3 separate regions of the Homo sapiens genome follow, and all the other regions are linked to region 3. Evidence: fine-mapped expression QTL. A gene starts in region 3. Each other region holds a variant in brackets. All regions are shown on one strand. Distances are between the middles of the regions. Region 1 holds the start of CPB2 (carboxypeptidase B2). Region 2 overlaps ESD (esterase D). Region 3 holds the start of ESD (esterase D).

What was found.
Region 1: its variant is fine-mapped to the expression of ESD in amygdala (GTEx, PIP 0.96).
Region 2: its variant is fine-mapped to the expression of ESD in whole blood (TOPMed, PIP above 0.99).

The regions. Positions count from the first base shown.
Region 1 is chr13:46,101,497-46,109,663 of GRCh38, reverse strand. CPB2 (carboxypeptidase B2) reads left to right here and starts at 4,631. Exons shown (of 11, transcript NM_001872.5): 1 at 4,631-4,728. The coding sequence starts at 4,655. The variant G/A (reference allele first, on the strand shown) is at 4,341.
Region 2 is chr13:46,767,224-46,775,413 of GRCh38, reverse strand. It overlaps ESD (esterase D), which reads left to right. Exons shown (of 10, transcript NM_001984.2): 10 at 3,918-4,158. The coding sequence ends at 3,998. Among named protein-coding and RNA genes, the nearest start is that of ESD, 26 kb to the left of the region's middle. The variant C/T (reference allele first, on the strand shown) is at 4,219.
Region 3 is chr13:46,794,129-46,802,318 of GRCh38, reverse strand. It overlaps ESD (esterase D), which reads left to right and starts at 5,158. Exons shown (of 10, transcript NM_001984.2): 1 at 5,158-5,214. RefSeq lists enhancers at 5,241-5,290, 5,422-6,023 and a silencer at 5,601-5,650.

The DNA.
Region 1 (8,167 bases), 690 kb after region 3:
CTGACCCTCTTTGAAGCTCAGAGCCTGCTGACGTTTGAGGTCAGGGCAGGAAAACAGAGAGAAAACCCACAATGAACCCAGCCTTACGCTGAACAGGAGACAGTAGCTGCCTGTGGCTACTGGTAGGGAAGAGGAGAGCAGGAGAGCTGAGACCCCTCCTATGGCGCAGGAGCACTGGGCCTGACGATGGGTGCAGGCAGGGCAGGAGAACTAAGACAAACCCTCCAGGCACTCAGATATCAATCCTGGCTAGAGGAAATAATTTGATCTTGCTATAATAATATAACAAATAAAATTTAACAAAAATAACAGCAAAGCCTAGACCCAGCTCAACTGCAGCCTAGATTGGCTCAATCCTTCACACTGGTGGCATGAGAGAAGAAGATATGGGACCTATTCTGGGCTTATCTGCTAGTTACTTTAGTCTATCCTATCCTTTTGTACATAACATCTGTGATTCAATAAAAAATTACAAGTATATGAAAAAGCATAAAAAGTGACCCATCTTCAAAAGAGAAAATGGTCAAAAGAACCAGATGCAGAGATTGCTCAAAGACAATCTTTGTTCATACATGTATGAAAAAATGGGAAATGCAGCAGTGAAAAGTAAACTCTAAAAAAAAATTCAAATAGAAGTGTCAGAAATGAAAAATATATCAGAAATAAAGACTTCTTTCAATGGACTTATCAGCAAACTGGAACTGCTGGGAAAAGAATAAGTGAACTTGAAGCCAGATCAATAGAAAATATCCAAATTGAAGCATAAGGAGAAAAAAGAGATAAGAAATAAAACAGACACACTCTAGTTATTATTGTGGTGAGGAAAGAAATTACTGCAAACTTATGGATGTAGACTCATACGTACAGAGCCAATGGATTTTTCCCAAAGATGGCAAAGCAATCCCATGGGAGAAAGAAAAGTGTTTTCAGGAAATGATGCTAAAACAATTGAATACTTATATGGAAAATTAAAGAACATCAATCCCTCCCTCAAAACATACATAAAAATTAATTTGAGATGGATCATAAACCTAAAAGTCAAAACTATAAAGCTTCAAGAATATCTGCATGATCTTGAGTTAGACAAAGCTCCTTAGACAAGACCCAGAAGGCACTAACCACTAAAGAAAAATTGATAAATTGAACTCAGCAAAATTAAAAACTTTTGCTCTGCAAAAGACATCAATAAAAAATGGGAGAGCCACAAAGTGTCAGAAAATATTGACAATGTATATGTCTGACAAAGGAGTTGTATCCTGAATATATAAATAACTCTCACAAGTTAATAATAAAACGACAACTAAATTTTCCAAAATGGTCAAAAGAATTTGATAGACATTTCTCAAAGGAAGATATATTTACAATACATATATCTGACAAAGGACTGATGTCTAGAAAATGTGAATAACTCCTACAAATCAGTAATAAGACAAACTATCCCAACTAACAACCAGGCAAATGATCTGAACAAACACTTCTATATATATATATATATATATATATATAAAATCTAACTGTACACTTACGATCTGTGCATTTCACTGCATGTACCTTAATACAAAGGAAAAAAATGCTGCTCACTTTTACCTAGGACTGGTTTATAAGTAGCTGCTAGTCAGTATGAGACAGAATAACTACACCAGGAGTAACTAAGCCAATAATTAAGTCAAGTCATTACTGTTTGCTGACTGGATCTTTGAAATGTGCTCCAAAAACCAGTGTAAGACAGGGCTCTGGAATGGAAGCGCAGGGACTTCTTGGAGGCATGTGCCAAGCAGAGAGAAGTGAGCATAGGGGAAGAGAGAAAGAAATGAAAGACTTCCTACTTGAAGGAAGACTTCCTACTCAAAATGAGCCTGCAGACCAGAGTTCCAAATCACAGAAGAATTCAAATACCAATAAAGGCAGCTAACAAAATCAATACTCAGAACATGAATTCACCCAAACATAATTAACCTCATAAAGCAGTGCAACACTGACTTTAAAATAAGTATCCTGAGGATTCTCAATGAGAGATCTAAAGGAATCATATCGACTAAAAAATTGAAAAAAATCTTAAATGATATTTTAAAATACTGGTATAAAAACAAAATCAGTAAACACGCAAAAGAACCAGCTGTAAATGATTTATATAGTCATCGAGGTAATTATTTAAAACACCTCAACTGGACTATGTAGTCTAAATTAGACTCAAAGAATAAATTAGTGGATTTGAAGATAGTGCTGAGAAACTCACCCAGAATACAGCATACAGAGACAAAGATGATGAGTTTTTAAAACATGAAAGGACAGTTACAAGACATGAAAGATAGATCAAGAAGCTCCAACAGGAGCCCCTACAGGGCACTAGCAGAGATACGATAGCTGAAGAAATAATAAAATGATTTTCCAAGACTGAAGAAATGTCTAAATCCTCAGATCAAAAGTACATCCTGTGTATTGAGTAAGATAATAAAAACTAAATCCACATCTAGACCAGAGTAATGGATCTGAGAAGCACCAAGGATAAAGATAATCCCTTAAAAGTTATCAAGGAGAAAGGACAGCTAAACTGCAAGGGAACAACAATTACCTGGGCAGCAGATTCCTACCATGCAACAGGAAATGTCAAACAACAATGACGCATCCGTCACACTCGAATATTACATTCAGCTAAACTAGTACTTGAAAGTGAAGGCAAAAGAAAGTTATTGTTAAAGATACAGAGCATAAAAGATTTTATCACCTGTAGACTTTTGCTATAGGAACTTTTAAAAGATTGCTTCAGCAATAAGAAATGTAATTTAAAATTTATTGTTTTTTATGCACTCTGTTTCTTTTGTATCCTGTTTCTGTTTCCCCAGAGAGGAAACAGGACATAAAATAAAGAAGAAACACAGATACAAAATAAGTAGCACAAAAATTGATAGAATTTATTAGCATATTTTAACTATTTTGACTGTTTGTTTTAAAGTTAACTTTTATGTTAAAAAGATAAGGTAAAAGTTACTTGGGTTAGTTTTTCTTTCTCTCCTTCAGTGTGATTATGTTATTCATTTGAAACACAGGTTCGTTTTTGTTTGTATTATTTTTTAAAATTTATTTGTTTGCTTGTTTTAAGTACATATGTGAAAAGAACATGGTTCTAAAATTCAGAGTAGTTCTAAAGTTCAGAACTATTCAAAACACTTCACCCAAAGAAGCGTCCCTCCCTGTCTCTTCTACCCTGTCTTTTCCAGTGTGTTTCCACTCACCTCCCGTGGATAACCAGTCTCATTGATTTCTAATCTATCCTTCTTATGTTTCTTTCTCCACATATGAGCAGACACACACATATTTTCTTATTTCTTCTTCTTTCTTATACAACAAGTGGTTACAGTGGAGGTCACTTTAATTCATTAAATATCATTCAATAGTTTTAAATCTCAAAAGGAAAAGTTTGAAATCTCAATCATTTTCTTCTGGCCAGGCACGATGGCTCACGCCTGTATTCCCAGCACTTTGGAAGGCAGAGGCAGGTGGATCTCCTGAGCTCAGGAGTTTGAGACCATCCAGTGCAACATGGTGCAACCCTGTCTCTACTAAAAATACAAAAAAAATTAACTGGGTGTGGTGGGGCACACCTCTAGTCCCAGCTACTTGGGAGGCTGAGGCAGGAGAATTGCTTGAGCCCCAGAGGTGAAGGTTGCAGTGAGCCAAGATCACGCCTCTGCACTCCAGCTTGGGCTACAGAGTGAGACTCTGTCTCAAAAAAAAAAAAAAAAAAAGAAAAGAAAAAAGAAAAAAAATCATTTTCTTCTCAGAAGTTAATTGTGGGCAGGCTGATTTATTTTGCAAATTTGCCAATTCTGACTTCAAGAACATTCAAGTGCATTAACCAATGGGAATGTAGGGGAAGAGGGCTCCACTCACTTACAGAGGGTAGGATATGGCCTCATACTAGACAAAATGTTATTTGATGCTACTTTCAAGATGATAGGGGATGGGCCTGGATTTAATTGATGGCTATTATGGTGACCTTTAAATAAATGAGATTCAAAGTAACCTGATGTCTTTACTGCTTGAACCAGCTTCCATGAAATAGTATTCCTATTGGGGGTGGGCCTATCATTCCATATGGTCAAGGAAACATCTTTTTGAACAGAGATCCTGTAATCATCCTTACAAACTGCACTTCAACATTGGATTGGATTAGCCAGATTTGAGGAACTCACTTTTTACATCTTCATAAATTTAAAATGTTGAAAAAGTCAGAGGCAAGGGAAGACATTTATAGTACTTCACGGTAGATCTCCCTCAACATGGGCTATATATCCATTAGTCAATATTCTATAGCTATTGTTCTGCAATAAACCAGACAA[G/A]ATCCTACTGTATTACTACCCTTTTATTCTTGGCCCTACCTTCCCCAAGGAGTTACACATTTTCTAGATAGTCTAAATTAAGAGCAACTCTCATCATACTCTTTTTGAGTGTTTAATTATCAAGCAACAGCCTAACTAAGCCAATAATATTTCTCTTTTTGGGAGTGGAAATGGAAGCTAAGTTGATTGACCCACAGGAACAAGAGGGAACATGCCGTTATATTTTAACCAGTGTGTAAAGAAGGCTGTTATGCAATCAATGATCTGGGTTTTTCTCTTCAGAGAAATTTGTTGTACAGAAAATTGCTGTTGGGATGAAGCTTTGCAGCCTTGCAGTCCTTGTACCCATTGTTCTCTTCTGTGAGCAGCATGTCTTCGCGTTTCAGAGGTAACCCAATAGAATCTTAGACTGTGGTGGGCCACTCTCCTCACTTGTTTGCCTCATGTCGTGTCAAGTCAGTGCACTGAGCTGGTGGACAAAATGGTAAACTTTGAAGGCCAGGTCTTTCAGAACTTTCCAAGTTGCCCTGACAAATAAGTAGACTTTAGCACAATGGGCTATCACTAAAGACAGGGTCTTTTTTCTTTCCTGGCTCTGGTTTTATTATTGGGAGAACCTTGGATGATACGCATATCCAGTGACTATGGAGATTCAAGAAATTAAATCTTTTATAAACGTAACTATTTATACTCTAACTTGATGTATGATTCATATTCTTCCTGTCTTCACATAAAAAAAGTTAACTATGGATCATTTATTTTCCCCTTGTACATGGAACATAGGAGGAAGAAGAGGGTGAAGTGTTAAATAGGAGGTTTGGATCATGCATGATTATTTAGCATGGAATATGAAAGGAAGAAGAGTTGTGTGATAAAGAACTATTATCTGATTCTTATTTTGCTTAGTAGATTCCCTTAGGATAAACTATCTAGAAGAACACAAATGAATTCATGCTATAGCACATGCAATGCATGGAGAAAATAGTTCCAGGGTATATGTAATGTAATTTATTAAGTAGTCAATTTTTAGGCTTTAAAACATTGATATTGTTTCCTTTGGAATTATCTTATTTTTTCCCCTTTGTTTTGGTTCTATGATCGCTTTCTCCTCCAATTATCTTTGAGACAGATCCCTCTCCTCATGTTAGTAAATGACAAAGAAAGAAGAGACATAGGGCAAAGGAATATACCAGTGACAAGGAACATTCTACCACCAAAAAAATGTTCACGGTCATAAATAACCATAGGACAATGGTTTGGAAAATAGATCTTGACTTGTGAGCCTGAAGCTGTGTTTGTACATGATCACTGAACTGATTATAGTTGATTGATCTTCTTTTGTTCAACATGATTGTCGAATGTCGAGCAACAAATTCTATCATAAAATGATATTATTTTTGTTATTTAATTGACGTGGGGGTCAAGATTGCTGCAATGATCAGTGACTTATGTCTTTCTCTGTATTTTATCGGTGAATCATATGGTCAGGATTTCTAAGGTTCTTGCTAGTTCTAATATTCCATAACTTGATAATTGGCTTCAGTTAAGGGAAAGGGGGAGAAGAGAAAAATTGGTATCAACATGTCCAACTTGGCTACTGTACACAGTGGCAGTACCATTGACAGTTAGGGGAAAGGGAGGAAACCTCTGCTTATTTAGTGCCTGTGTTTGTGCCAGGCACTGAACTAGTCACTTAGAAATGTTATCTCTTTAAATGCATAAAATCCTACATGCTAGGAATCTTTACTGACATTTTACAAAGGAGGAAACTGAGCCTCAGGAAGAATAAATAATTGGCCCAAGATCAAACAGTAAATGTAGAGCTTGGATTCAAACCCACTTTAGCCTCATTTCAACTCCATGCACTGGACAGCATTGCCTCCATAAAATCTGGAAATTAGGAAGAGAGCCAGTTTGAAGGAAGGTCAGATTTAGTCAAAGGGAGTTGCAGGCAGCAGTTGGTTTGGAAAGTAGCTTGGAAGAGAGGTTCGGGATTAGAGGTTCAGTCTCATGGTTCTCACCCACTAGCAGATCTAATCATGGCCTTGGCGTCAGCCCAGTGCAATTATCCTCAGCTGGTTGTTGCAGAGGTTGGCGGGCAGGTGGGCTCACTGCAGACCGCCATCTTGATCGTAGAGTAACCCAAACTCTTGGATAGGATAATCAATAGCAAAACACACTAAAAGCTTTAGCACATCTCTTCAAATGAGTACGTGTATAGCAGCTTAGTGACACTAAATATAACGCAAATAGAAGAAGTAGCCAACAATAAAATAGTAAAAAAATGAGTGAGAACATATCTTCATGCATGGGCTTTGTTACTATTTGTTGCTTCAGCTTATACTCTGAAATCTGACTGATACTTATGCTTGAAAAAAGGAATGAGAATGTGACTATATTTTAACCAAAGAATATCACATTAAAAATATTTAATACTTTTGCATACTGCGAGGGTCCCTTTGCAGAGGAGAGGAGGTAGGAGGACCTCAGTATTGTAGACAGATGAATATCTGAATCCTGGTTCCCATCCCTTCACTGGAAATAACATTGCAAACTACTCTTTCTGTGAGTAAAAATAAATTTTTTTACCAAATGTTTCTGTGCTCCACTTTTCCAGGAATGGCCTATTCCTGAAGCTAAAAAGGAAATCTAATTTCATTCAGGGCAACAGACTTTGATAAATTGTTGCTGGGGTTCAGAATATCAACCCTTCTAAAAAAAAAAAAAAAAACTAACAGTCTGGCTTTTTCTTAAAGCTGTTCTTTGTTTTTTTTTTTTTTTTTGTCATAATCATTTTCCTACTAACAGTTTTTATTCATGCAGTCTCTTAGTGGCTGATTTGTAGGTTCATTTTGATAAATTTCATCAGTGAAATGCCCTGGAACAACAACAAGTTTTAAAGGCATAAATATCATATGCCAAAGGGAAAGGCAGCCAAAAAATCATGACTCCATATTCATTTGCTTTTAAAAGCCAAACACTATAAAGGGTAAAAATAAAATACTAGCAAGAATCTTGTAAACAGAATCAGTAATTGTATTGTGCAGTGATTACCTAAATGCAGCCTGCCAGCCCAGACTATTTGGAAAGAGGAAGTAAGAGACACTAGGAAGAAGACTTAGGAATTAGAGAGTGGAGGAGGGTTGAGGATAAAGGGCTTCTGAATTATTAATAGACCACAGGAAGTGTTCCTCTGTTGACTTCACATACTGTTTGGGTACCTGGAGACCAGTTTACTCTCTTTCACTTTGTTCCTACTGATGTATTGTTTTCATCTCAAAGAACAGGCCACCAGTGGCCTTAAAACACTGTAATGTGTGCAACAAAATTGCAGCCTTGGGCTATGTTCCATTGTTCAGAGACATCTTGCCAGCTTTTTAAATTCAAAATAATCTTTCAGAATGGTGAAAGTGTGAACCCTCCCCTGTAAACCATAGCAGGGGATACACCCCAATGAACATAATGACGTTCTCAGAAGGGAAGGAACAGAGGAAGTGTTGCATAGGTATTAAAAGCTCAGGATCTGGATTCGAGCCCCAGATCTGCTACTTATCACCCATGCAGACTTGGGCAATTTGCTCGTCCCCTTTCAGCCTTTACTTTTTTTTGTAAAGTGACCTGTTACTTCACTGTGCTTGTACTTCTCATTCGATTTTTGGTGCAAGGCTGTTCTTTTTTCTCAAGTGGTTATTGTGTAAGTGCTATAATCGTATCATTCAGAGACGCAGTTGAAACACAGCTTTAGTTTTTGTCTCCCATTGCCCCATGACATTTTGCGTAGTGGGGTTATCTATCACTGCTCTCGCATGGAAAGTTAGAAAATTTCA
Region 2 (8,190 bases), 27 kb after region 3:
TGAGAAAGAATAAAGAAAATAATTACAATCATGCACATGATTTACTCAACTTCATTCTTTTACCTCTTTTTAATGGTGTTAAATGCTCACAATTTATATTTATACTCTGTCGAATGTCAAAAAAAATTTTTTAGAGAGAGGGGTTAGTGCATCGGGGATATTTATTTGGTTATTATTTTATATAATTTTTTCTTTTTCTATTTTGGCTTCAGGGAATCTAAATTGAAAAAAAAATACTAGGTAGCAGAATTCTGATATCTAGTGTACAGAGATCAAATCTTAGTCTGAAAAAGAAGGGCCTAGTATGTCTTATCTTTAGTTATTGGAGTTACACAGTGAGAAAAAAAAATTTAGTGACCTAATACTGTGAAGAAGTTTCCAGAAATAGTAATCTCTTTTTGTGGAATAGAAGGAGAGGCTATACTACCTCCTTAAGTCTCAGGACCTTTTTGAAGATTGAGAGGCTGTTTTAGCCTCTGCATCTGCCTGCTAGAGAAGAGTAAGAACATGGCAGAGAATCCCAGAAATGTAGAGCTCTCTCATTCATCTCTGTATCCCATGCTTATTTAGCATAGGTATCTAGCACAGAGACTCTCAATACTTGTTAAATGAATACAGTGCAAAGTCTTCCTCCTTATACACTGAAGAGATTTAATAACCTGGGGATTCTTATCCAAGCTTTTCTAATTGGGTCTGGAAAATATATAAGAAAACACTGCCTGTTAGGATAAACATCCATCATAGCTGCTGGAGCACTGCTCCCTTTTTGAGAGCTGAGTGAAGAATGAAAGAATGAAAGGTGTTCATTTATTTTTATACTCCAGGAGTCAAGAGTTTTGCTACCAAGGATTTTCCATTTAAAGTGTGAGGTAGAGGAGAAAAGTCCCCTTCAAGTGTCACTAAACATAGGCATTTGCACAAGCTGCTTAACATATCATACCAACTCATTCATCAAAGAATTTAATTAAAGAAGCCATCCCCATTTAATAAGACTGATAAATAGAAACCCTCGTCAGGGATGATACAATTAGCTCGAATTGTGTAACTTCAGCAGGATACCAATTGTTCAAATGTATTCTATTGCCTTTTTGTTGACATTTTTTAAAATTCTTGGGCCCTCAATGGCAGGCATTTTCTTCTTTCTCATATAGGTGAATCTTTATCATTATGGAACTTATGGTCATTTGTTTTGGATTTTAGATGTCTTGTCTTGCAATATATTCCTGGGTTTACCTTGGGACTTCTCTAATAATAATGATGGCTATTCATATGTGTCTGATGGCTCTTAACACACAAGAAACTAAGGATAAAAATATGGCATACTCAGTCACATTGGAACTTGGTCACACAAGTCTTTTGAGATATCTGTTTCCCTGCATCTGTACCCATTTTCTATCAGATCCATCTTTTGATCTGTGAAAAATGGCAGATAATACTTGGTACATTTTACAGGTTTGGTGGCCTAAAACTCCAGGCCTGTTTAACTTCTTAACAATTCAAGAATTATATGGATGGAAAATGTTTTTCTTTACATTTCTTTCTTTATATAGGAAACTGTAATTTAGCTCTAAATTCAACTAGCCAGCTGGGACTAGTCTAATCATTGAGAGACATGACACCAAGTAATTCCGAGGCTCAGCTTTAATCTTGACAACATTCCTGTCACATTCACTTCCATGATAGAAGACAGATTGCTTTAGAAGACTTAAGTTACCTTGACCTTAAACTAGAACTTTTTATTAACAGCTGTTCCCAAGATAAACATTTAATACCTCTCTGGAAGGGAGAGATTGAGAACATTTACTGATTCATCAAAACCTTGGGGATTTCCTTGTTCTCTGAAGCGTCAGTGATATTTTTATTAGCTCTATTTTTATTTCTTAGGTGCTTAGAAAAATTCCCATCTTTTCCCATCAGTGACCATTCACTAGTTCAAAATGGGAAAAACAAAATCTTTGTTAGACTTTCATTTCTTTCGGTTTATTCAACCTTGTATTTTAATTGTAGATAGGGATAAATTATCTGGTGTTTGATACCCTTAGAAAGTTCTTCCCACCTGGAGTGTAAATTAGTTTAACCATTGTAGAAGATAGTGTGGTGATTCCGCAGACCTAGAGGCAGAAATGCCATTTGACCCAGCAATCCTATTACTAGGTGTATACCCAAAGGAATATAAATCATTCTGTTATAAAGATACAAGCACACATATGTTCACTACAGTACTATTCAATACTATTCAATAGCAAAGACATGGAATCAACCCAAGTACCCATCGGTGATAGACTAAATAAAGAAAATGTGGTACATATGCACCATGGAATACTGTACAGCCATAAAAAGGAATGAGATCATGTCCTTTGCAGGGACATGGATGGAGTTGGAAGCCATTATCCTCAACAAACTAATGCAGGAATAGAAAACCAAACACCAGGCCAGGCGCAGTGGCTCACGCCTGTAATCCCAGCACTTTGGGAGGCTAAGGTGGACGGATCACAAGGTCAGGAGATCGAGACCATCCTGGCTAACATGGCGAAACCCCGTCTCTACTAAAAATACAAAAAATTAGCTGGGCATGGTGGCATGCACCTGTAGTCCCAGCTAGTCGGGAGGCTGAGGCAGGAGAATCGCTTGAACCCGGGATGTGGAGGTTGCAGTGAGCCAAGATCATGCACTCCAGCATGGGTGACAGAGTGAGACTCCGTCTCAAAAAAAAAAAAGACCAAACACCACATGCTCTCACTTATAAGCAGGAGCTGAATGGTGAGAACACATGGATATATGGAGGGGAACAACCCACACTGGGGCCTGCCAAAGGGCGATGGGAGTTGGGGAAAGCATCAGGAAGAACAGCTGATGGATGCTCGGCTTAATACCTAGGTGATGGCTTGATCTGAGCAGCAAACCACCATGGCACACGTTTACTTATGTAACTGCATATCCAGCACATGTACTCCTGAACTTAAAAGTTGAACAACAAAAAAAGAAGGAAAATGCGTTAATACCTTATTGTAATTATTTTTTTTTTGGAAGACTATTTTTTATATTCAGAAGAAGTGTCAGAGTCAGCAGAAAGGGATTATTTCTCCATTTACCTACAACAATGGTTTTAAATGACTGGATAGATAGAAATCTCTTTCAACTTAACTGCTTAGCACATTGCATTTTTCTCTGTTTCATGTTAGTTTTCCAAAGGATTACTGACTTTTTACCTAATTTGCTAAGGGATGTCAGGCCTTAATGACATATTTCCCCTCACATAAAGATACAACATGCTTTTACTGTGTAGGAGGAATTGTTAACAGGATTTATGATGGCTGTGTTTGACTTCCCAACAATGATAGAACATTTGGGCATTTTTATGTTCTTTTTCTATATTGTTTGTGTGCTTATTTTGTGTTTTAATAGTCACTGTCTTACTGATGTGCTGCATTTGTGAATTGAAATGTCTTGCCCATGTTTCTAAGATCTCTAAATCCTGATTCTTTTCATCTTGGTTGATATGACAGTGTCATATCAACTGACACTGTCAATTGATAGTGTCATTTTCAATGACAGTGTCTACTCTGCATATTTAATGCACTCTACAGTGTTGATATGACATGTCTACTCTGCATATTTAATTAATGTGTTACTTCCACTCTTTACATATTAATGGCAGCATTTAGAAGTTAGGCTATGTTTAGAAGCTAGGCAGAATGTTTAGTTTTCCTTCACATTTTTGCTGCTCTTTTAATGTACAGTGAAAATGTTAAAGTACAAGGATGACAACCTTGATTTTATTATAAACCTTCCTCATACTTCCTTAATGTTATGACTATTTGTAAGCAAATTAAACGACCTTAGAGATATATTTAATGTTCCTAATACTGATGTTCCTGAATGGTAGATAAATGTCTTATCATCTCTTTATCTTCTAGGGTTATGATCATAGCTACTACTTCATTGCAACCTTTATTACTGACCACATCAGACATCATGCTAAATACCTGAATGCATGAAAAAACTCCAAATAAGAGAATCTCTTCAGGATTATAAAAGTTGTAAAATGCAACTGTATTGCTGAGCAAAAAAAAAAAAAATTCAAAACATTGGATTTTATAGTGCTAAAAGGGCTTTATTCTATAGTTGAATCACCTCTGAATAAAGATATAAAACCTACTTCTGATTTTAAAAGTTATTTTACAAGTGTTCACATAGGAAATCTTTAATGCTCTATAG[C/T]TTTTTCAGTGTCGTTTGGAAATTCTTGTATTAATCCCAGGTCATAGAATATGAATGTAATCCTATTTGAAGTATAGAGTAGCAACTCTGGAACAGAAGACTTAAAAGTAATTTAGCCCAGACTCCTCACCTTTCCAGACTTTAAGCCTCTGAAGACATTGGACTGTCTTTGTCATGTTCATTGTTGTATCTCTAGTGTCTAGCAAGTGTCTAGAAAGCAAATATCCACTTGATTTCTAGTGGATATTTAATAACTGTTAGCTACAGAATAAAGAGGTAGGCTCAGAAAGGTTAAATGAATTCCCCATCGTTACACAGCTATTTGTGGGATATTAGAAGACAGATTTTCTTTTCTTACCTATTGAGTCTAATATATTTGTGAACATTGGTTTTTGGGTGTATTAAGGTTCTCAAGAATTAAATAAGATTCAATCTGAAAATGGCTAAATAAGGAAACGTATTAGTTTCATATGTTACTGTAAACATGAATATTTTCCCATAGTTGCAAGCAGAGATTTAACTTGGTGAGCTCACCAAGAAAAGTAATATCTCTGTAAATACCCAATTGTTTTCCTTTAAGAACTTTTAATAGACAAACTTTTTGAAATGTGATAAAAGCCAGTAAAACATGATAGAAGCCAGTAAAACCTGGCTGCTTTAAAAATATATTTTTTTCTGTTAAAAAATAAATTTTAAACATTCAGTAGGAATGCATATTATGGTAACTGAAGAAAATGACATTAAGTTCCTAAAGTTATAAAATTAGTATTATTTAAACATCAGTAGTCAAGGTTGAGCCCTTGAATGAGCTGTACACAGAATGGTTCTCATTTAAACAGTCTTGTGTCTTCTAATAAGATCATTCATGAACGTTTTACATGCTGGTAATTTATTTGTGAAGAAAAACAATTGTCCCTAAGATCATTGAGGTTGAGGTTTAAACCAGGGAAGCAAAACTAGTAGGAGATATATACATTAAGATTTTTTTTAAAAAACGAGGAATTGGCATACCTGGATTAAGAAAATGTGGCACATATACACTATGGAATACTATGCAGTCATAAAAAAGGATGAGTTCATGTCCTTTGTAGGGACATGGATGAAGCTGGAAACCGTCATTCTCGGCAAACTATCTCAAGGACAAAAAACCAAACACCGCATGTTCTCACTCACAGGTGGGAATTGAACAATGGGAACACTTGGACACAGGAAGGGGAACATCACACACTGAGGCCTGTTGTGGGGTGGGGGGAGGGGGGAGGGGGGAGGGATAGCATTAGGAGACATACCTAATGCTAAATGACGAGTTAATGGGTGCAGCACACCAACATGGTACATGTATACATATGTAACAAACCTGCGCGTTGTGCACATGTACCCTAGAACTTAAAAGTATAATAAATATATATATATAAAAAAAAAAAAAAAAACAAGGAATTGGCATACCTGATTATGAGGGCTGGCTAAGCAAGTCCAAAATCCATAGAGCAGCAGTCAGGAAGGGACAGGCACAAGCAGGACGGACTCTGGGCATGGGCTCAAGCTGTTGTACACAGGAGGAATTTCTTCTCTCCTGGTGAGGCCTCAGTCTTGCTTTTAAGGCCTTCTGATTAAGTGAGGTCCACTGGATTGTCTCTCCTCTTTAAAGTCAGTTGATTAGGGACTTTATCTGCAAAATTCCTTCATAGCAACACCTAGATTAGTATTTGAATAACAGGGGACTGTAACAAACAGCTAAGTTAGTTAGTGTATCATTGTTAGAAAATAGTTGCTTTGCTTTTTTACACGTAAATGCAAAACATTTAAATATTCATTAAGTAATTGCTGATGAACAGCTAATGTTAGTAAAGACAAAGACCTTTAGTTAAAACAGAAATGACTGTTGAGGATAATAAACCAATACATTTGAGCTTGCTTTTTTGTGCCACAAATGCTGGCCTGGGGAGGGATGAGTCCTTATCAATGCCTAAATGTAACATGAGTTTCCCCAACTAGAAAGAGTTCAATCTTAATGTCTCTCATATTGTAAGGTTCCATCTCAGTGACATAGTTAACAATACATAACCTAAACATTAACTCCCAATGCTTGTTTAGGGTGTTTCTAGAAGTCACCTGACAATCAGGTATAAAAGGAGGTAAAGGAATCTGACATTTCCTGGATTATGTTCAATGTAAGACCCTTGTGAAGATTATGTTCTTGAAGAAACGTAATACTGTAAAGCCACCACCATGAAGAGTAAAAGGACAAGCCACAAAGTAGATGGAGATGCTTGCAACACATATATCTGACAAATAACTTGTATCTAGAATGCCTGAAGAACTCTCACAAATTCTTAAAAACATAAAATTTGGCAAAAAATTTGTACTTAACAAAATAGGACAAATATGGCTAATGAATGCCTGAAAATGTGCTTAGTAAGACTGGGGAAATACGAATAAAAACTACAATGCAATGAACCTACACACCCACCTGAATGGCTAAAGTTCAGACAATGGAAAATCCCAGGTGTTGACAAGGAAACATGGCGACCTGAATTATACTGCTAATAAGGTGCAATCTGGCAGGATCTGCTAAGGTCTAGTTCAACCTTAGCAAACTGGTAAGGTCTGATGAGGCCTCAGACCTTACTTAGCACGTCTCCTATAGCCTTTCAATGCATGTTTCTGTACTTAACAGGAACATTATGGCTACATGAGAATGTTTACAGCAGCACCATTTACAATGGCCAAAATCTAGAAATAACCTGAATCCATCTATAACAGAATTAGTAAAATTGGAGCATATTCATACAATGAAATATTCTACATGAATAAAAATAAACACACTATAACTGGATGCAGCAACATGGATGGGGTCTCAATCATAATCTGGAAGAAAGAATCCTGACACCAAATTATGTGCTATATAATAACTTGGTACCATTTTATATGCATAGTATTGAAGACAGGAGGTGTTACACATAGCAAGGCAATGGAAGGGGGTGGTGGGGGGCATTCTGAGGGAGAGGTGATTGGAGCATGGCAGGAGAGAGTACTGGTGATGCTATCTTCATCCAGGTGCTTGGTACATGAGCATGTTCACTGAAAATTCATCAGGCCATACACTTAGGATTTATAAACTTTTTAATATGTGTTATACTTTAATAAGGTTTACATTAAAAGTATATTAAGTAGTTATGCTGTGAAGATCATAAATATACTACTGCATGAAGAATTTAAAAATCCTGATGTTATTGCAAAGAATACTTATCTTGGGGGATACAATTTCCAGTGGCTACATCGTTTATCAATTCAAGTAATATTGTATCTCAAACCACTTAGAAGTGAAGGTGATGTGAAAAGTTGCTGCAAAAAGTGGCTGTAGGCCAGGCGTGGTGGCTCACATCTGTTATCCCAGCACTTTGGCAGGCCGAGGTGGGTGGACCACTTGAGGTCAGGAGTTTGAGACCAGCCTGGCCAACATGGCAAAACCCCATCTCTACTAAAAATGCAAAAATTAGCCAGGTGTGGTGGCAGGTGCCTTTAATCCCAGCTACTCAGGAGACTGAGGCAGGAGAATCGTTGGAACCTGGGAGGCAGAGGTTGCAGTGAGCTGAGATTGCACCACCGCACTCCAGCAACGGACTGAGACTCTATCTGCCCCCTCCCCCAGAAAAAAATGGCTGTAGTGATGTTACTGATATTGACGATGCAAATGAGTTTAGATAAAACCATGTCATAAAATCTTACAACAGAATATTTAATATTTCCAAGCTGACATATCTCAAGTATTTTTAAAGTATACATATAAAATCTGTGACAAGTAGGCATGAATTATATATTTAAAAATGTATAAATGTATTCGAATTAGCCAAAGTTTTGGATGTTATCATTAGAAAAATGCAGATCCAGGCCAGGCGCAGTGGCTCACACCTGTAATCCCAGCACTTTGGGAGGCTGAGGCAGGTGGATCACAAGGTCAGGAGTTTGAGA
Region 3 (8,190 bases):
ACATCAGCAGATTCAGTGTCGGTTAAGGGCTTCTGTTATAAGAGTGCTTATCCCATTCATGAGGGATCCACTATCATCACTTCATCACTTCTAAAAGGCCCCACCTCTTAACACCAACACATTAGAGATTAAATTTCCACATATGAATTTTGGAGAGACACAAATACCCAGACCATAGTAACCTTTCATGAATTCTAAAGCCACTTGTGTGCCTACGATTTGCAAGTATTAGAGCTAGGATATGACTCAGCTCCTGCCTTTCAGAAACTTACTTATATTCAAAATTGCAATGCAATGTTAGGTGCCACAATAGAGGTGTGGCTGTACAAGGGCTAAAGGTGCACTGAAGAGTGCTTAGCTTTATCTAAGCAGTTCAAAAAGTTTCCTTGGGGAATGTGCATTTGAGCTGGGAACTGAAAAACATGTAAGTTTGTAAGGTAAATTGTGCATGGTGAGAAGTGTGTTGTGGGATAGGCAAAAGGAACAGCATGTGCAAAATCATGATGGTATAAGAGCATGGGGTGTTTAGATTATAATTAGGAGGGAAGTAGCTTGATACAGCTTCAGCATAGGATGGAATTATGAGGGAGCTGTAGCTCATGAACCTGGAGGGATAACTTGGTAATAATGTCATCTTCATTCATAGTGCCTGGCACATAGCAAGTGTTTCTTAACAGTAATATTTTGAGCATGTGTGTGTACAGATGCAGCCATGGGCTGCATTACAATGTTTTGGTCAATAACTTATTATATACACTACAGTGGTCCCATAAGATTGTAATACTGCATGTTTACTCTACCTTTTCTGTATTTAGCTGTGTTTAGATACACAAACACCATTGTGTAACAGTTGCCAAGAGTATTTAGTACAGTAACATGCTGTACAGGTTTATAGCCTAGGAGCAACAGACTATACCATGTAGCCTAGGTGGGTAGAAGGCTATACCATCTAGGTTTGTGTAAGTATACCCTGTGATATTCCCATAGTGACAGAATCAGCTATCAATGCATTTCTCAGAACACATCCCTGTCATAAAGCAACTCATGACTGTAGATAGATAGATAGATAGATAGATAGATAGATAGATAGATAGATAGATCCATTTATCTGTCTATTGAGAGAGAGAGCTGGAGGGAGGACATGGGAAAAAGAAAATGGAATTTCTAAATTGTTTTCATATAGGGAGGCAAACAGAAAGGGAAATTTGGGGTGACTTGTGGATATAATGGTCCTTGCAATAAGGCCAAGATGGCATATCTGCGGGGATTTCTACCTAACAGCTGATTCTTCATAACCAAGGAAGCTGTCCTAGTTCTCAGCCTAAAAAGATAATGATATAATATCTAGAGCTACTGACTTTTGGAGGATACATAAAACCCCAATTTTCTTCTAAATTCTTAGTTTCCTTTAGCAAAATCCCAGCCATGGTTATAATGGTAATCTCAGAATTTTTTAGTTGCCTCATTGTCTATGAAATAGTTTATTTTACTTCACTCTCCATGTTTACAAATAATTATAGAAGCATGTTTAAGCTATGCTGGGGAATGTGTAAGTGACTAGGAGGCATTTTAGAAATGACCTAAAGAAATAGTTGGCATTATTGAGAAAAGGATCATGAAAGCATAGGTAGTCTCACTAGCAAAATACTAATCTTACACCAAAGGAGATTTATAAGCATTAACCAAAACAGTTAGTGAACTGGCCTTTTGTCAGTTTTCATACATGCCAATGATTAACAGATAGCCAGAGTTCATTTTGTTTCTAATAAGCTATCAATGGAACTTTAAAAATTATGAATAAACTGACAAACTGTGGCTCAACAAATATGTAGAATGTTAAGAAACTTAACAGTACTGTAATTGAGCAAAAGGTGATAAAAGAATAGGAGTCACTTTGAACAGGAAAAAATCTATAGTTTTAGTTCTCATGCTAACAAAAATAACAATAATGGCTAACACAAAAGTCTAGCTCTGTACAATCACACACTAACTCTTGATTTTTTTGAATGTGTGATGAAAAAGAAATATAGCTTTTAGGATTTAAGAATTAAAAAAAAAAAGTAAATGGAATTGAGGCCAGATGCAGCTGGGTGCAACGGCTCATGCCTATAATCCCAGCACTTTGGGAGGCTGAAGTGGGAGGATCACTTGAGCTCAAGAGTTCAAGACCAGCCTGGGCAACATAGCAAGATCCCATTTCTACTAAAAATACAAAAATTAGCTGGGCATGCTAGCACACGCCTGTAGTGCCAGCTACTCAGGAGGCTGAGGCAGTAGGATCACTTGAGCCCAGGAGTTTGAGGTTGTAATGAACTATGATTGCGCCATTGCACTCCAGCCTGGGTGACAGAGTAAGACCCTATCTTAAATAAATAAATAAATAAAATTGAAATATGTGAAATTTGGACATTTGCTAATATGAATGTGAGACTGAAAGGCTTGTCTGTACTTGTTGTATTGTACTCTGCAGTTAGAACTTAAGATAACAAAGTCAAGATGGAACAGTGGCACAGGGCTATAAGTTTCCGGTACTTGGTTCAGTTCCCATGATCCAAAGTCTGGTCCTCAGAGTACACATTCAGAAACTCAATTCTGTAAGGTGAGTATCATGCTCAGAGATGGTAAGTCTTTGGGAAAATGTATCATCTCAGCTACACTCACCAGAGACTAAAGCATTTTTAACCTAAGTTCTGATTTATTAAATAACAATGGAGCCTATTATTTTCCAAAATGTCACTAGATAAGAATAGAATCAAAATAAAGGGAATTTTGAAAAATGTTTATCTAGGCCAGTGGTTCTTAACTAGGGGCAATTTTGCAGCCCTCCTCTACACCAACCCCTCCTTCCATGGACATTTGGCAATGTCTAGAGACGTTTTGGGTATCTAAGCTTGTTAGGGGTACCACTGGCATCTAGCTAGTGGAGGCCAGGGATGTTACGAAACATCCTACAATGCACAGGGTAGGCCTCCACGACAAAGAATCATCTGGCCCCAAATGTCAACAGTGCCGAGGTTGAGAAACCCTGTTCTAGTCTGTGGAAAAGCCACAAGGACACTTCTCAAGTAGCATATTTGATACCCAAGAGATTATATTATTTTCTATGTATGGTGTCTTTTCTAGTCTCTCTAAAACTATCTTTGCTATGGATTGAATGTTTGTGTTCCCCAGAATTCAAACATTGAACCCTAAATCCTTAACGTGATGGTATTTGGAGATGGAGACTTTGGAAGATAATTACACCATGATGGTGGAGTCCATGTGAATGGGACTAGTGCCCTTACAATAAGATGAAGGAACCAGAGCTCTCCTCACCCCACCCACCAAGTGAGACTACAGCAAGAAGGTATTCCTCTGCAAACGAGGAAAAGGGCTCTCAGCAGGAACAGATTTCATCAGCACCTTGATCTTGGACTTCCCAGACTTTTAGAATGGTGAGGAATAAATTTCTGTTAAGCTGGAACTGACTAAAACAATCTCTTTTCTTACAGGCTTCAAGTATATTTGACTTTTTCTCATTTTTATTGCATCCCTTTATTGCCTCCTTAAGATTATATTCCTACTCATTTTAGTTCAAACCAAGAGTCCTATATCCTCTCAGCCACACATTTACACATAATTTTTGGACTATTTCTTTGTGTACTTAATATTCATCCATTTTTATTGGTAGTGCCATTTTTTAAAATGTCAACCTTAATTTCTGATTTCAGCCTTCTTTGCTTCCATGTCCAAATAATAATGATAATTATATATATTCTTAATATTTTTAAGCAATCGACTTTTGTGGATCTATTAACATTTTATTTATGCTGGGTAAAAGAAATTTTAGTTCTGCTTATTCTCACATTGTATTCACACAAGAACCCTTTAGTAAAGAACTTCACACTTACAGTTCTTTGGCTAGTCTGCACCTCACAGCAGTCCACTTATTAGGCAAATATATCATTTAATCAATTATTTCTCTTTGTTCAAACATCAGTTATAAAGAACTTGCAATTTAGGTATTTATTCTGTTTCAGTTTTGAAACTGAAGAAAATCCCCTTTTCAATGATTTATACTTAAAGATAGTAAAAAGAAAGTTTAAAACAATTTACTTCAATGCTTTCTCAAAATAAAAACATTATTTTGATGAAACATTATTTTCAGTCTAAGTTCCAATTGATCCACAGGTTCAGTCCACAGGTTAATTTAGTCCAAAGATCACTATGGCAAAATGGGCCTGAGCCACACAATAGATTCTGGCAGGTAATCTCTTGTGTGGCAGCTCATCCATACTTAAGTCAGCTCCCATAGCTACACAATTTGCAGGGCCCAATTCCAGACACAAACGTGGGGCCCTGGTTCAACACTTACTGAGAGAAAATGTAGCGTCCTTCTGTTCTGGGGGCCGGGTAATAGCACAGGTTGCAGGCCCATGAGGCCAGCCCCAACTATCAGATTGTGTATTTACAATGTCAGTCTAACCGTTGCTGAAAAATACTTAGCTCTGTTGTAATCAGATTTAATTTCTCAAGAGGCAAAGTACACTCAACAGTTTGCTTAAATCAGAGAGACCAAAAGGAAAGATTTGCTGTAAATTATCAACTAGCAAATCTTAGTCAGTTCAACTTAATTTTTATTGAGGGAAGAAGGGAGAAAACAGAAAACTGATGGAGTTCCCACTGCGTGTCGGCCACTGGAGATTTCAAAGGTTTCTTGTTTAACTCAAGCTACCAAGTAGGTGACGTGGATAGTCTTGGGACAGAGGAGTTGAGGGAGTTGAAATTAGGCCCTAGTTTCTACATAAGTGACACGGAAACCCTCTGCACGAGTTAAGCGAAGCTACATCTCAAGTTTATTAATGCCTCGGGTTCTTGCTGCTGGCTCTGGGAAGAGTCTGAGCACGCACAGCAGACTGATCCCCGACAAGGTGACAGGGACTAACCTAACGCCCTCCTCGTTGGTCCTAGTAACCACACAGAGCAGAAACGCGGGCGAAGGCAGGAGTTGGAGGGGGCGCCCACGCGGAGGCTGCCGGGAAGTGCAATGTGCAAAGGCGGCGGGGCCATGGAGACTGAACTGGAGAAGAGCGGGTTCTCGGAGTTAAAAGCGAGAGTGAGTGGGACCGGAGGGGCGGGGCATCATATGGGCGGGGCTGAGGCGAGGCCCCGGCGGCCATCTTGAGCCCCGCCTTTTACTTCGGCCCGCTTCTTCTGGTCACTCCGCCACCGTAGGTAAGACTGGGTTCGGGTAGAGGCCTGGACGTTGTCAGCCTTCCTGCGGCTGCGGCACGGCTAGGCGTGATCGGGGCGGACGCCGAGTCCTGCGGTGCAGGTATCCGCAGGCACGAGCGCAGAGACGGCGACCCTGGGCCTTGGGCGCCACCATCCATGACAGGAGGCCAAGGACCTTTTCCCGTGACCCGGAGCCTCGCCTCTAATCCCTTTTCCTTCTCTGAGCCTCCAACCTAGTGTAACCCGGGGCGAGCGCCCGTTTACCTACTGCCCGCTACATTTGTACAGCTTTTTCCTGTTCAGAAAGACTTTCCTAGACCCGCAGCCACCGCGCGAAAATGTGAAGTAGATGTGTACGCATTTTAAGGAGGGAGCTGGCCTCAACGCGTTACTAGCGGCCGCCGGCGCCTGGTTCGGGGGAGTGTGGACCTGCTGCTCTAGGCAGCGTCCGCGTCGGGGCACGAGCCAATGGCGCGGTCAGGAGCACTCACCTGATGGTGCCGAGGGGAGCACGTGTCTTTGGAGTTTGACAAAATCTGTTCGGGTCGTAAAATGCTCTCAGAGCGCTGTGGGGGACTGGAAGTCATTTCTGATGGGGTCATTAGGGAAATGGGATTGAGCGCACCTGGAAGGAGAGGGCATTCAGGTTGCAGGAAAAATAATAGCTCATGTTTGTGTGTGTGGTAGAAGCAGCATTTTAAGCACTACGTGAATTAACTCATTTAATTCCCAGAGCAACCCTATCAAATTGATATATATTACTGTATACCCATTTTGCAGATGGGCAAATGAGGCATAGATTAGCTTGCCCAGTGTCATGTAGTAATAAGTGGTGAAGTCAGGGTTTGAACCCGGAGGGTCTGGCCCCAAAACCTGCTCTGAAACCATTGTACCGTGGCATTGAGTAAAGCCACCCGATAGCAACATCCAGGCCATCCTAGAATTATGCATAGTTGAGTTTAACTAACAAAATAGGGAGTGAGACCAGAAAAATAATCTGGGACCAAATTATAGACCATATTTAGAGCCATGTGAAGGTGTTTGGCGTTTATAGATGCTATATTTTTTTTAAAAAATTTTCCCCAGAGTTTAATAGAAATCCTTACCTAGGCAAGCCATGTGAATTTTTATGAAGGAAAAGAGACCCAGCCTAGGCAGCATGGCAAAACCTCCTCTACAAAAAATTACCTGGGCATGGTGGTGCCACCTGTGGTCCCAACTACTCCAGAGGCTGAGGCGGGAGGATCACCTGAGCCCGGGGGCCGAGATGATTGCAGTGAGCCGAGATCAGGCCACTGCACTCCAATCTGGGCCACAGAGTTTGACCCTGTCTCAAAAAAAAAAAAAAGAAGAAAAAAAAGACTGTGTTTGCACACAGGTAGAGTGTGACTGAAGTTTATATGGAGTTTTATTCATCTATTTTTTCAGTGATCCTGCATGGTTTTAATTTTATGAAATTTTAATGGCATTAAACTTGAAGAAAATTGTACAATTAACATGGTCTTCCATTTCAGTGACTTTCTGGTTCTCAGCGACTGGCCTAACAGCGAAAGGGATTAGTAGTCTCCACCTGCAGCAGCCAGGGGGTGATGAGGCAGTTCTCATCTGCTCATTATTGTGAGCTGGCGAACTGCGTTTTTACATATGACTAATGGATACTTAACACTACTGAAATACACACTTAGGAATGGTTAAGATAGTAAATATTATGTATGTGTTTTTATCACAGTTTTTAAAATACTAAATAAAAATGACTAACAATTCCACGTAGGCCGTATTAGGCTGCAGATGAGCTGTTGGTAGGGATCCGTTGACCAGTAAATTAAGTGGATTAAAACCCTAGGCTTTCATGCAGGATTGATCGTAGTGGGATGTATTAGGAAGAAAGGAAGAGGCTAAGTTTTAATTTCTTATATATAATTAGGATGATGGCAGTGGGAATTCAAAAAGAAGGTAACTTTGAGGCATCTCAAATGTAGATTAGGCAAGACAGGCATGAGTCTGAAAAAGAGAGGCAATGAAAAGAGGAATGGTTTGAAGGTGAGATGCAGAAGCTTAATTTTAGGTGTGGTAAGTTTTAATAGCTGGTGACATGTCTTGGTAGAAGAGTCCAGCAAGAAATGTCATTATGGGTACTAATGCTTGAGAAAGATTGGTTATAGAGATGCAGATTTAGATTATTTCACCCAGAAAATGTAGTTGAAATTTAGGGAATGAGGTTTAGGGAAAGAGTGTGAAGAAAAAAGAAAAGGGAGGTGGGAGGAGACAGAGTGAAAGGGAAGAAGCCAGATCCTGAGTTTTCACTGAGAAGAGGATTTGAACAACACAGTGGTGGTCAACAGCAGTTATTGGAACTGTAGATTGTTGGTTTTGGGAACACCTGTCTAGGTTGTTAAGAGCCAGTGGAATAGGACATCCTGGAAATGAAGAAACATCAAAATCCAAGGAATCTGAGAGAATGGGAACAAAAAAACACATGTAGAGATTTATGGAAAACTTGAGACACAGGGGAAGAAGGATAAAAATAGAACTCAGATTTCTGGAGGTGGATGACATTTAACTTTAATAAGTAAAGGGCCCTGTCTCTACAAAAAATTAAAAAAAAAAATATTCCAGTGTGGTACGCACCTGTAGTCCTAGCTGCTCAGGAGGCTGAGGTAGGAGAACACTTGAAGCTTGGAGTTCTAGGTTACACTGAGTCATGATTATGCAACTGTACTACAACCTGGGCCACACAGCCAAGACCCCATCTCCAAAAAATAAAAAATAAAGGGAAGAACAGTAAGGTTTGACCTTTAGGGGAATGGATGTATTATGCACTGAGAGACCCTTTCTTCTCCAAAGAATGTTGATGTTCACTAACATTTGGGAAAAATTGTGTAACTCCCACTGGCACTGTGAAATTGTTTTTCTGTTTTTGTTGTTGTTGTTGTTGTTGTTGTTTTTTGGAGGGGAAGGAGGAAGGGTGTTGTTTGG